Linked DNA regions of Homo sapiens. The protein of the gene in region 2 interacts with the protein of the main gene of each other region in a biochemical or structural test. Each region holds a gene or a part of one and is shown on either strand. Other genes may lie near its edges.

Region 1 (7,447 bases), on a different chromosome or scaffold from region 2:
GAGATAAATTGGCAGTCTTAAAAATGGGTTCACGGTCTTTCGTGCCTTTGGCTTTAGAAGACACGGTGGCCAGCCTACTGTTCTTTGGATCATCCCACTCATTTCTGTTGGGTAATTTCTCTAATTTTTCCTCCTCTGGCTTTCTTTTAGCCCCTTTATTTATCTAAGTTAAAATTTCAAATATTTTTCCAAATTACCAAAAATAATTCCATTAAGAATTTGATTGAGACTGGGCGCAGTGGCTCACACCTGTAATCCCAGCACTTTGGGAGACTGACGCAGGTGAATCACCTGAGGTCAGGAGTTTGAGACCAGCCTGGCCAACATCGTGAAACCCCATCTCTACTAAAAATACAAAAGTTAGATGGGTGTGGTGGTGCACACCTGTAATCCCAACTACTTGGGAGGCTGAGGCAGGAGAATTGCCTGAACCAGGGAGGCGGGGTTGCAGTGAGCCCAGATCCCACCAATGTACTCCAGCCTGGGTGACAGAGTGAGACTCTGTCTCACGAAAAAAAAAAAAAAAGAATTTGATTGAGTGAAAATACCTGGGCAGGAGAGACACTCCATTCTTTGTGCCTTTGATGCTCTATTGTACCTTTTTCTTTTCTTTTCAAGACATGGGGTCTCACTATGTTTCTCAGGCCGGACTTGAACTTCTGGGCTCAAGCCATCCTCCCACCTCAGACTTCTAAGTATCTGGGACTGCAGGTGCAAGCCACTGCACCCAACTCTTAATGTACCTTTTACACACATTTGTGTCACAACACCTGTGCCACACCCTTAACAGTTTTGCAGATGCACATCCCAACGTTTTTCAGTTTTGAGAAAAATCACTTTTATTTGGTAAAAATCACACATGCTTATGAAAATAATTACACATTGCACCAAAGTGACAAAGATGAAAGTAATCACTCCAGATCCTAGTTCCGAGAGGTTACTATCTTTAACAGTAGGCAAATAATAAAATCCCAGGTTTTTTGTTTTTTCTTTTGAGACGGAGTCTCGCTCTGTCACCCAGACTGGAGTGCAGTGGCACGATCTCGGCTCACTGCAAGCTCCGCCTCCCGGGTTCAGGCGATTCTCCTGCCTCAGCCTCCCCAGTAGCTGGGACTACAGGCGCCCGCCACCATGCCTGGGTAATTTTTTGTATTTTTAATAGAGACGGGGTTTCACCGTGTTAGCCAGGATGGTCTCAACCTCCTGACCTCATGATCCGCCCACCTCAGCCTCCAAAGTGCTGGGATTACAGGCGTGAGACACGGCGCCTGGCCAATCCCAGGTATTTTTTCTATGCAAATATACAGAAGGCTGGATGGATAAACAGATAATACATGTAAATACTTAAATTAGAATGTGGCCCAGGAGAACATGAACTCCATGAGGTCAGGGATTTTTGTTGGCTAGGTTCACTTCCACATCTCCTGTACCTAGAGTAAGGTTTCTCAGCCTGGGCACTACTGACATTTGGGCTGGATAACTCTTTTTGTAGGAGATTGGGGTGGGTGGGGAGCGTGCCATCCACTGCACTGTAGGATGCTGAGTAGTGTCCTTGGCCTCTACCCTGGCAGAAGCATCCATGTGACAACCAAAACTGTCTCCAGACATTGCCAATTGTCCCCTGGGGGCAAAACTGCCACCAAGTGAGAATCACTAACCTAGAAAAGTGAGTGTTCAATACACAATAAGTGCTTGTTAAATGTATTACACAACCGGAAAATGATGTAAGGGCAAGTTAAAAAGTAATGCAAACTGGCCGGGCACAGTGGCTCATGCCTGTAATTCCAACACTTTGGAGGCCGAGGTGGGCAGATCACCTTGAGGTTGGGAGTTCAAGGCCAGCCTGGCTAACATAGTGAAACCCCGTCTCTACTAAAAATACAAAAATTAGCCAGGCGTGGTGGTGGGCACCTGTAATCCCAGCTACTAGAGAGGCTGAGGCAGGAGAATCAATTGAACCCAGGAGGTGGAGGTTGCAGTGAGCCTAGATCCCCGCCATTGCAAGTCAGCCTGGGCAACAAGAGCAAAACTCCATCTCAAAAACAAACAAAAAAAAAAGTAATGCAAACTCATCTGGGTTTTGGTCATGTCCTGCATCTCCTGAGGAAGGGCAGAGGGCTGAGGAGCAGTCCTTGGGAAGCACAAACATGTGAGAATCCAGGTTGGCTCTATGCCCTACCCAGTAACGTAGCCCCAAATCTCTGCCTTAGCTGACATGGGGGCACACTGAAGTCTTGTGAAGGGTAGAAGGGACCATGTTGAGGCAGGGACAACCTTGCCTACAGGTGATTCAGGTAATCCCACAAGTTCAGCCACAGAAAACAAGCATGACCATGTGCAAAGACTTCCACGAGACCACTTGTCACAGGGTTGTTTTAATTCAAGCAACATCAACATACACCAGAAACTTGTGAAGAAAATTATGGCACATTTGTATAACTTCAGTGTCAAGAAGCCAGCGGTATTTTGCAGATAATGCAAGGTCTGTAGATCGAAAATTAAGTTGGGTGTCTTCCTTTAGTGTACAAACACCTTGGATGTTTGAGGAAATCCAAAGACAAGGTTCTAGGCATTTTATACGTGTTAACTCATGTATTATGTTAATTCTCACAATAATCCTTTGGAACTAGTACGATCACCATCCCTGCCTTATTGAGGAGGAAATGGGGTACAGAGAGCTTAAGCAACTTGCCAGTGTCATGCAGCAGGGAAGCGCTGGAGGCAGGGCTCCAACCCACGCAGCCTTGCTGCATGTTTGTGGAATGAACACAGGACTCAGGCACACAACCATCTGGCTGAGGCTCCATGAGCAGCCAGGAGCCTGGTCCCAATGCAGTCTCCTTATAGGCACAAATGGGGTGCCCCTTGAGACAGGAATAATAAAGGTGGTCACAGGAGAACGGAAAATTCCAGGCAACAGTTTCACATGACTAGCAAAGGAAACCGTTGAAATCGCTGCGTAAGCTAGGGGCGGATAAGACTCTGAAAACCAGGGTGTGGGCCAAGCTGGCTAAAGCCGACTGGACCCAACATGGTGCTGGATTCGACCCGTTTCACCTAGGACCTCTCATTATGTGCTCATTAACATACTAAGTCACACACCCACTGTGACAGCTCTGGGGAACACCCGTATTTAGTATAAAAATGTGTGGCACCGCAGTACCAAGAAATGTTTACCTTTTTCCAAGAATCTTCATGAATATTCCACCCCTTGGTTAAATAAATATTTAAAGGTAGCTCCAAACCCCGCTGGGCGTGATGCTCTGTGGTATGCCTGCACTTTTCTTTCTTCAGTACGTACTTATTCCCGTCGCAATGAATCTCCACACTTTGTTCTGCTCATCCATGAATTCCTTCTCACGACAGTGTCAAGAGCCTGGACACCAGTCAGGGTCGAGGCCTCACCAGCATCTTGGGGCCTCACTGGGCACAGACGCGTGAGCGCCCGGCCTGCAGACCTGACTCTGGCAGCCGCTCAGGCCCTCAGAGGGAGAGATGGAAGCTGGCAGGACGCAGTTGCTACCGCGCGGACCCGGCCCCCGACCAGCCTTGGCCCCTCGCGCGCCGGGACAGGGCCACAAATGACTGCACCTGGGCTTCGCTGGCCCAGGCACCACGCGACTCTAAGCGCGCCCAAAGCGACCCTCTGCGCAAACTACCCCCGGGGACGACGTCACCCGTGAGGTCCCGCGGCGCCTCCTCCTAAAGCTCGGCTGGGAAACCGTCCGCTTCCCCAAGACTTGGGGGCTTGTGGCCGAGTTGTTTTAGTTTTCCTGTAGGATTCACGGGTGGCTGAGGCAAACACGCTTGAAGGCCTAAGACTTTTAAGTCTCTTCCGCACCCTCTCTTCTGTCTCTTCCACCTGGAGGATGACCGCTTTTTTGGGGGTTTTGTTGTTGTTTTGAGACGGAGTCTCGCTCTGTCGCCCAGGCTGGATTGTAGTGGCGCCATCTCCGCTCACTGCAACCTCCGCCTCCCGGGTTCAAGCGATTCTCCTGCCTCAGCCTCCCGAGTAGCTGGGATTACAGGCGCCCACCACCATGCCCGGCTGATTTTTGTATTTTTAGTAGAGACGGGGTTTCGCCACGTTGGTCAGGCTAATATCAAACTCCTGACCTCAGGTGATCCGCCCTCCTCGGCCTCCCAAAGTGCTGGGATGACAGGCGTGAGCCACCGCGCCCGGCCGGGATGACTGTTATTAACAATTCCCGGCGTGGTTTCTAGCACCAGCCCACCTACCACACCCCACCTCGCTTGAGGCTGAATGGGTAACAGGATGAACCCGCCCCTGGGCTGGTTTTCTCTGAACCCTAACTCCTGCCGTTACGCCCCACCAGCTCTAGGCCAGGAACTCTATGTGCCCCGGCCACGCTAGAGCCCGTACCTAGACCCGTAGGTCGGGAGGCCTGCGCCCGGCACTGCGCAGACGCAGCGTGCTGTGCCCAGAACTCTTCTGTTCCCAGGAGAATCAGGGGAGTCGGCGCCGGAAGGGGCGGGTCCGAGCTGAGATTTCCAGAGCCATGGGAGCCGGAAGTCCAAGGAACTGTACCTCCATCATGACGACTCCGGTTACGTAAAAACATTCAAACAGAAAATGCTGGCCAGGCTCATGCCTGTAATCCCAGCACTTTGGGAGGCCGAGGCGGGAGGATCGCTTGTGCCCAGGAGTTGGAGACCAGCCTGGGCAACATAGTGAGACCCTCCCCCCACCCATCTCTACAAAAAATTTTAAAATTAGCTAGCTGAGATCATGCCACTGCACTCCAGCCTGGACAACAAAGTGAGACTATGTCTCAAAAAAATTTAAAAATTACCCACGCCTGTAGTGTCAGATAGTCAGGAGGCAGAGGTTGGAGGATGACTTGAGCCTTGGGGATCGAGGGTGTAGTGAGGTATGATCGCACCACTGCACTCCAGCCTGGGCAACAGAGCAAGACCCTGTCTCAAAAACTATATAAAAGAAAAAAGGGCTGGGTCGGTGGCTCACGCCTGTCATGCCAGCACTTTGGGAGGCCGAGGCGGGTAGATCACCTGAGGTCAGGAGTTTGAGACCAGCCTGACCAACAAGGTGAAACCCTGTCTCTACTAAAAATACAAAAATTAGCTGGCCATGATGGTGGGTGCCTGTAATCCCAGCTACTGGGGAGGCTGAGGCAGGAGAATCACTTGAACCCCAGAGGTGGAGGTTGCAGTGAGCCGAGATCACACCACTGCACTCCAGCCTGGGCGACAGAGCGAGAGACTCCGTCTCAAAAAAAAAAAAAAAAAAAAAAAAACAGAAAAAAGGCCGGGCACGGTGGCTCACTCCTGTAATTCCAGAACTTTGGGAGGCCAAGGCGGGCGGATCAGGAGTTCGAGACTGCCTGGGCAACATAGCGAAACCCCGTCTCTACTAAAAATACAAAAAATTAGCCAGGCGTGGTGGCGGGCTCCTGTAATCCCAGCTACTCAGGAGGCTTAGGCAGGAGAATCACTTGAACCCAGGAAGCAGAGGCTGCAGTGAGCCGAGATCACGCCATTAAACTCCAGCCTCGGTGACAGAGTGAGACTCCATCCCCGCTCCGCTCCCTCACCTCCCGCCAAAAAAAAAAAAGAAAATGCACTGCAATAGAAAAATAAAAGTACTACACTTTGGTCAAACAGGGTAACTACTAGAACGTAAAATGATCTTTTTGAAACTATCCACATTTGTTACACGTGTTGAAAATGTAGGATATATATGTTATATATATACTTATATATGTTATATATACTTATATATGTTATATACTTATATATGTTATGTACTTATATATTATATATACTTATATATGTTATATCTACTTATGTTATATACTTATATATGTTATATATACTTATATATGTTATACATACTTATATGTTATATATACTTATGTTATATACTTATATATGTTATATATACTTATACATGTTATACATACTTATATGTTATATATACTTATATATGTTATATATACTTATATATGCTATATATACTTATATATGCTATGTATACTTATATATGTTATATATATACTTATATGTATGTTATATATACTTATATATGTTATATATGCTTATATGTATGTTATATATGCTTATATGTTATATATACTTACATATGTTATATATACTTACATATGTTATATGTACTTACATATGTTATATATATACATATATGTTATATATATATAATTATATATATATAAAACAAAAAGCACGGTTACTACAAAGAAAACAGGTAAACATTAAGTGGAGTAAAAGTATATCCTGTTATATAAGGGACTTGAACATGTCTGGGCATGGTGGCTCAAGCCTGTAATCCCAGCACTTTGGGAGGCTGAGGCGGGTGGATTACTGGAGGTCAGGAGTTCGAGACCTGGGCAACATAGCAAGACCTTGTCTCTATTAAAAAATAGATAGATAGATAGATAGATAGATACATAGAACATCAAAAGAGGGAGAGAGAAAGCAGACAGATGTGGCAAAATATACACAATTGGTAAATTTGGGTGAAGGGAATATAAGTTATTTCTACTAATCTTGCAATTCTTATGTATATTTGCAATGATTTCTAAATAAAAGTTTTTAATTACCAATTGAAATAAAGTAAAATAAGTCACTATCTAGCCTTTTCTAGACAAATATTTTAAACTCTTACACAGAGATAAGTTAATCAAGAAACGTATTTCCTGGAAAAACCCGTGATATGGGTGGAGCCACCTGGGAATAAAAGGTCGGAACATCATAATCACTGTCAGACTCAACTTCCATCATTCTCCTCCAGGCGCTATGGAGTCTAATCCAGGCACTTTGGAAGGCTGAGGCTGGAGGATCGATTGAGGCCAGGAGTTTGGGACCACCCTGGGCAACATAGCAAGATCTCATTTCTGAAAAAAGAATTATCATCCACTCACCCAGAACAGCTCTCCAAACTGTAAGTTTCATTCAAGGTTTGCTTGTTTGGGTGATGGGATGTGTGTGTGTGTGTGTGTGTGTGTGTGTGTGTGTGTGTGTGTATGTGTGTGTGAGTGTTGGAAGGAGGGTCTGTCTAAACTTAATGCCCTAAAGATATTGTCAGATATTGTGATGAGGGGAATTTCATCTTCTACCCTTTATGAGGTTGAATTGTAAATTCGAAAATCCTGATTCTGGGTTTTTATTTTGAGGGGATAGTTTTCTGTTTTCTGTGGCATTGGATATTGGCATTTTCAGAAAAGAGCATGCATCCAAAATGAAAATGATGAAGCCTACCTGTCTTTTGAACTCAGCTCAGGGAAAAGCTGATGATCTCTAATTTTTGTGATTCCTCCTTTCATTAAATTTAAGGTCCAGTGAGGGTGAAGTTTCCCTAAAGAGGCAATAATTTATCAGCAGCAACAGGATGAAATGGAGGGGCTTTTCTTCACACTCTATATATTATGTTAGGATCTCTCAGGAAACTGAG
Region 2 (3,955 bases):
TTGGGAATTCAGCAGTGAACAGACAGGTAAAATATATGTAAGATGGAGTCATGTTATTGTGAAGCAAGAAGGTAGGACAGTCTTGAGTTGGCATTTGAAGCAGATGAGGGGACAAGTCATGTGCTTTGGGATATTTGCATTTTAGAGACAGCAGCAAGAACAAAAACAGGCTGGACCTGTGTCTGACACGTTTGAGAAACAGGAAGGTAACTAGTGAGGTTCAGCTGTAATGCGTGAGGGGAGAATAGGAAAGGAAGTGAAGGCGAGAAAGTTAAAGTGATAATGGGAGCTAGACTTTAAAAGTTAATTCCTGCCTACCCTTTTGTTTCAGATCCTTAAGAATAGATATTTCTTTGGCTTTTCTGGGCTCAAAATCTAGAAAGACCATCCAAGAACATTCTCTTTAACTCCAGTTGGAGGCCAGAAAAGAATACTATTAATATTCAAGATTATAATTAGAGTACAACAAAGATGGTAAAAGAATGGATATGACTTGTGCTCAGTTGGAGTTTTGGCTCAGCTGGTATTTGTTTTATTCTTTACAGCTATGGGATAAGAAGGTTTGGTCTTCAGAACTTACTTTTCTTCACTAACCTGTTCGCAGACTAGAATCATCTGTGGGTCTTCTTAACAATCTCAGTGCCCAGGCTGTATCCGGCCATTTAAGCCAGAATCCCTGGAGTGGCAACCAGGCATTAGTGGTTTTTTTGTTTTGTTTTTGTTTTTTTTTTTTGAGACAGAGTCTCACACTTTCACCCAGGCTGGAATGCAGTGGTGCGATCTCGGCTCGCTGCAAGCTCCGCCTCTCGGGTTCATGCCATTCTCCTGCCTCAATCTTCTGAGTAGCTGGGACTACAGGTGCCCGCCACCACGCCCAGCTAGTTTTTTGTATTTTTAGTAGAGATGGGGTTTCACCATAGTAGCCAGGATGTTCTCGGTCTCCTGACCTCATGATCCGTCCGCCTCGGCCTCCCAAAGTGCTGGGCATTAGTGTCTTTTTAAACTTCCTAGATAATTCTATTGTGTACCCAAGTTTAAGAACAGATACTGTACTTGATTTTTAAGGGGTCCTTGTTTAAGACTGATTTTCATCATGGTCCATGAGGAAAGAAACACCACAACGTAAGTATCTGTAATAGTTTATTTTAAAGACTTTACATTTACAAGTAGAAACAACATGTGTTATCTGTGGGTAAGGTAGAGCAGGAACTCTAATCCAAGGGTGGGGGAGATCAGTTGGTTCCTTCACAGAAAATAAGCCTGTTGTGTGGGCATCTTGCTTGCCTGTAGATCTTTGTTCCCAGTTCAGGAGGTTTTTATTCAGTGCTTGCTTCATTTACTGGAAAAGTTCACTGGGCCCACCTGTCAACTCCTTCCCCCACAGCTTCCAGCTCAGCAGCAAACTGTAGGGAACAGATTTACTCCCCAGTTCCTACTGTAAATAATGCTTTAAGAACAGCATTCCTTTTGGACAATATGTCATAGACCCAATTTTTAATACTCCCAAGTCAGATATCTAACTAGAGAGTTTAGGAAATGTTTGGTATGATCAAACTTTTCCCTTCAGTACACAATTTAATTTACGCAGAAGAGCATCGGAGACATTTGTCTCATAGATATGATTGACATGAGTGATAGGCTAAAACTAAAATTTTAGTGGTTTGTGGAGTGGCTAGAAAACATGAATTGTAAGCAGTTTTTCAGAATTTAAAAATCTCTTAGTTTGAACAGTAGAAGATGTAAATAAGCATAGAGACTGTTGGCAAGTTATGTTTATCACAAAACAAAGAAGAAGGCACAGAGGGTCCCTTTGACCCTTGAACTTGTGGTTACTAATAGTATTAAGGTTGGAAATCATGAGGAAGGACACAGAACATAAACTGGGATCTTGAAGACAGGCATGTTGATAAAAGTAGCCCTGAAGCCTTAATATTAGCAACATCGAAGATGGGAAAGACAGGATTGATTTATTTGGGAACTAAGTTTACACATTATATGTCTCAATATAAAACAAAAGCTATGGCTTTAGAGTTTAACAGGTTAAAAAAAAATAGGAGGAAAGGCAAAACAAATGTAAGAATAGTTTTTAATCCATTTTCTCACAAGCAGTGCACAGTGGGCCGGCAGGTACTTAAGTACCTTATCCTAATCCTGGATGTGCTCATACAGGCTGTCAATTTGGGTCCGAAAGTATTTGGAAAGCTCTCCTCGCTTTGCTTTCAATGTTGGTGTCAAGAGCCCATTTTCAATGGAAAATGGCTCTGGATGAAGAAAAATGGCTTTGACCTGGAAGATGAACACACACACATCCATGCTCATTAGTGATTTGGACTTCTCTGCAGAGCCCCCTGAGTGCTCTGTGAAGAAAGTGAGGTTGATGCAGTGAAAGGGTAAAGGTAACAGTAACACATGCCCATTCCCACAAACATAATTTAAGAAAGTAATGAGTAGGGAGAAGGGAGAATGGACAATAAACAGCAAAAAAAGGGCGCTGTACAAGTAACTACAAAAGGTCATTTTGTAGTTAATGGCACAAAATCTAAAATCAATTCCTTAGAAATTATACATTTAAACCTCATTAGATGGAAACTTTAAACAAAACTTTCTGACAAGAGGCCAGTATAACATCAGTGGTAGCACACACCTGTTCAAAAGTTTTAAGGCCACTTTCTTTCCCAATTTTCTGCAAGTCTTCTAAAATGGCTTCCCTTACAACCTAAGAATACAAAACATCACTTAAAGCATGGCTGTTTCAAAAAGCCTGAAGGGCTAAGCATGAACCAACTCAAAGTGCCTGTCAAAGCCATGCAGTATGAAAGCAGGAATATAAAACTATGCACAAGCACATTATATGCCCAATATTGAAAGAAAAACTGAGAAGAAAAGGCACATCTAAGTGTTAACAGTTTTCTCTGAATAGCATTTTTACTCTTCTTTCCCAATCTTTTCCCACAATGAACATATTATTTTAAATAGAAAAGAGAGTTTTATTTTTTAAACTCTCCATCCTATCCCCGAGTCCCATAAAACTATTCAGTCTGTTTGGGCTGCAGCCACTTGTGACAGATGCAGGAACTGGTGAGGCATCCTCTCCTCCACGATGGGCCCATGGGTGTGCATAAAGCTTTCCTAGGCAAGACTTACTTGGTTTTGGCACAGTTCCTCAAAGGAGCCCTTCACCCCAAGCTTGGCTGCAAATGAGGGAAGTACATCTGTGTCAGGAACCACCACTCCTACTAAGGATGACTATGGAAAGGAAATAAAAGGTGCAAGGGCATGAGAGAAGTTATGTAGGGATGTCCCCCAGTAGTTAAATAAAGCAGAATTATGTCATTGTAATAGTTATTTCCCCAAAACCTTAAATCCAGTACTAGTGTTCTTTTCTCACCATATATTTTCAACACCATGGAACTGTAATCCCATTTTCCCACTCAATATCTCATTACAAAGATGTTCCATTCAAATCTGATCCTTCAACATTAAGCTTAAAGCGCCTCTGGCTTGTCCATGTCAACTCTCCCCTTGTCCCCTAAAAGCTACATTTAAGCACAGTGTGTATAAAACAGTTCGTTGTTTTGGGATAAGGAGTTCCTTAAAGCTACGTTTAAGCATAGTATGTATAAAACAACAGTTTGTTGATCAAACTTTTGTTTGTTGCTTTATATATATTGCAACAGTTTGTTGTTTTATACATACTGCTCTTAAACATAGCTTTAAGGAACTCCTTAAGGAATGGGAACTAAGTGCAATGTGGAGCTCATTTTTTACTGAATCATTACCTTTTAGTATAGCCATTCTAAACAATTCTACTGACTTGTGTACAACGTCCATCATAGTTTTGAAATTTTTTAAATTGAAATTGCCTTATTTGAGGTTTGGAATGTAACTTCATTTTTTTTTTTTTTTTTAGTTTTATAAGCTTGGATCTTCTCATTCTGAACCCAACTATACAAAT

What was found. The genes of interacting proteins can lie anywhere in the genome.
Region 1: the proteins of ACSL5 (region 2) and USP29 form a complex in vitro, tested with the Homo sapiens proteins (one study listed by BioGRID).

Annotation. Positions count from the first base shown.
Region 1 is NC_000019.10:57,115,538-57,122,984, forward strand, and holds the start of USP29 (ubiquitin carboxyl-terminal hydrolase 29), read left to right. Parts: upstream 1-4,447; 5' UTR 4,448-4,692; intron 4,693-6,787; 5' UTR 6,788-6,937; intron 6,938-7,447.
Region 2 is NC_000010.11:112,425,549-112,429,503, reverse strand, and holds the end of ACSL5 (long-chain-fatty-acid--CoA ligase 5), read right to left. Parts: exon of another isoform or gene 3,247-3,955; coding exon 3,145-3,246; exon of another isoform or gene 2,717-3,144; coding exon 2,645-2,716; exon of another isoform or gene 2,287-2,644; coding exon 2,146-2,286; 3' UTR 1,128-2,145; downstream 1-1,127. UniProt on the Homo sapiens protein: Catalyzes the conversion of long-chain fatty acids to their active form acyl-CoAs for both synthesis of cellular lipids, and degradation via beta-oxidation.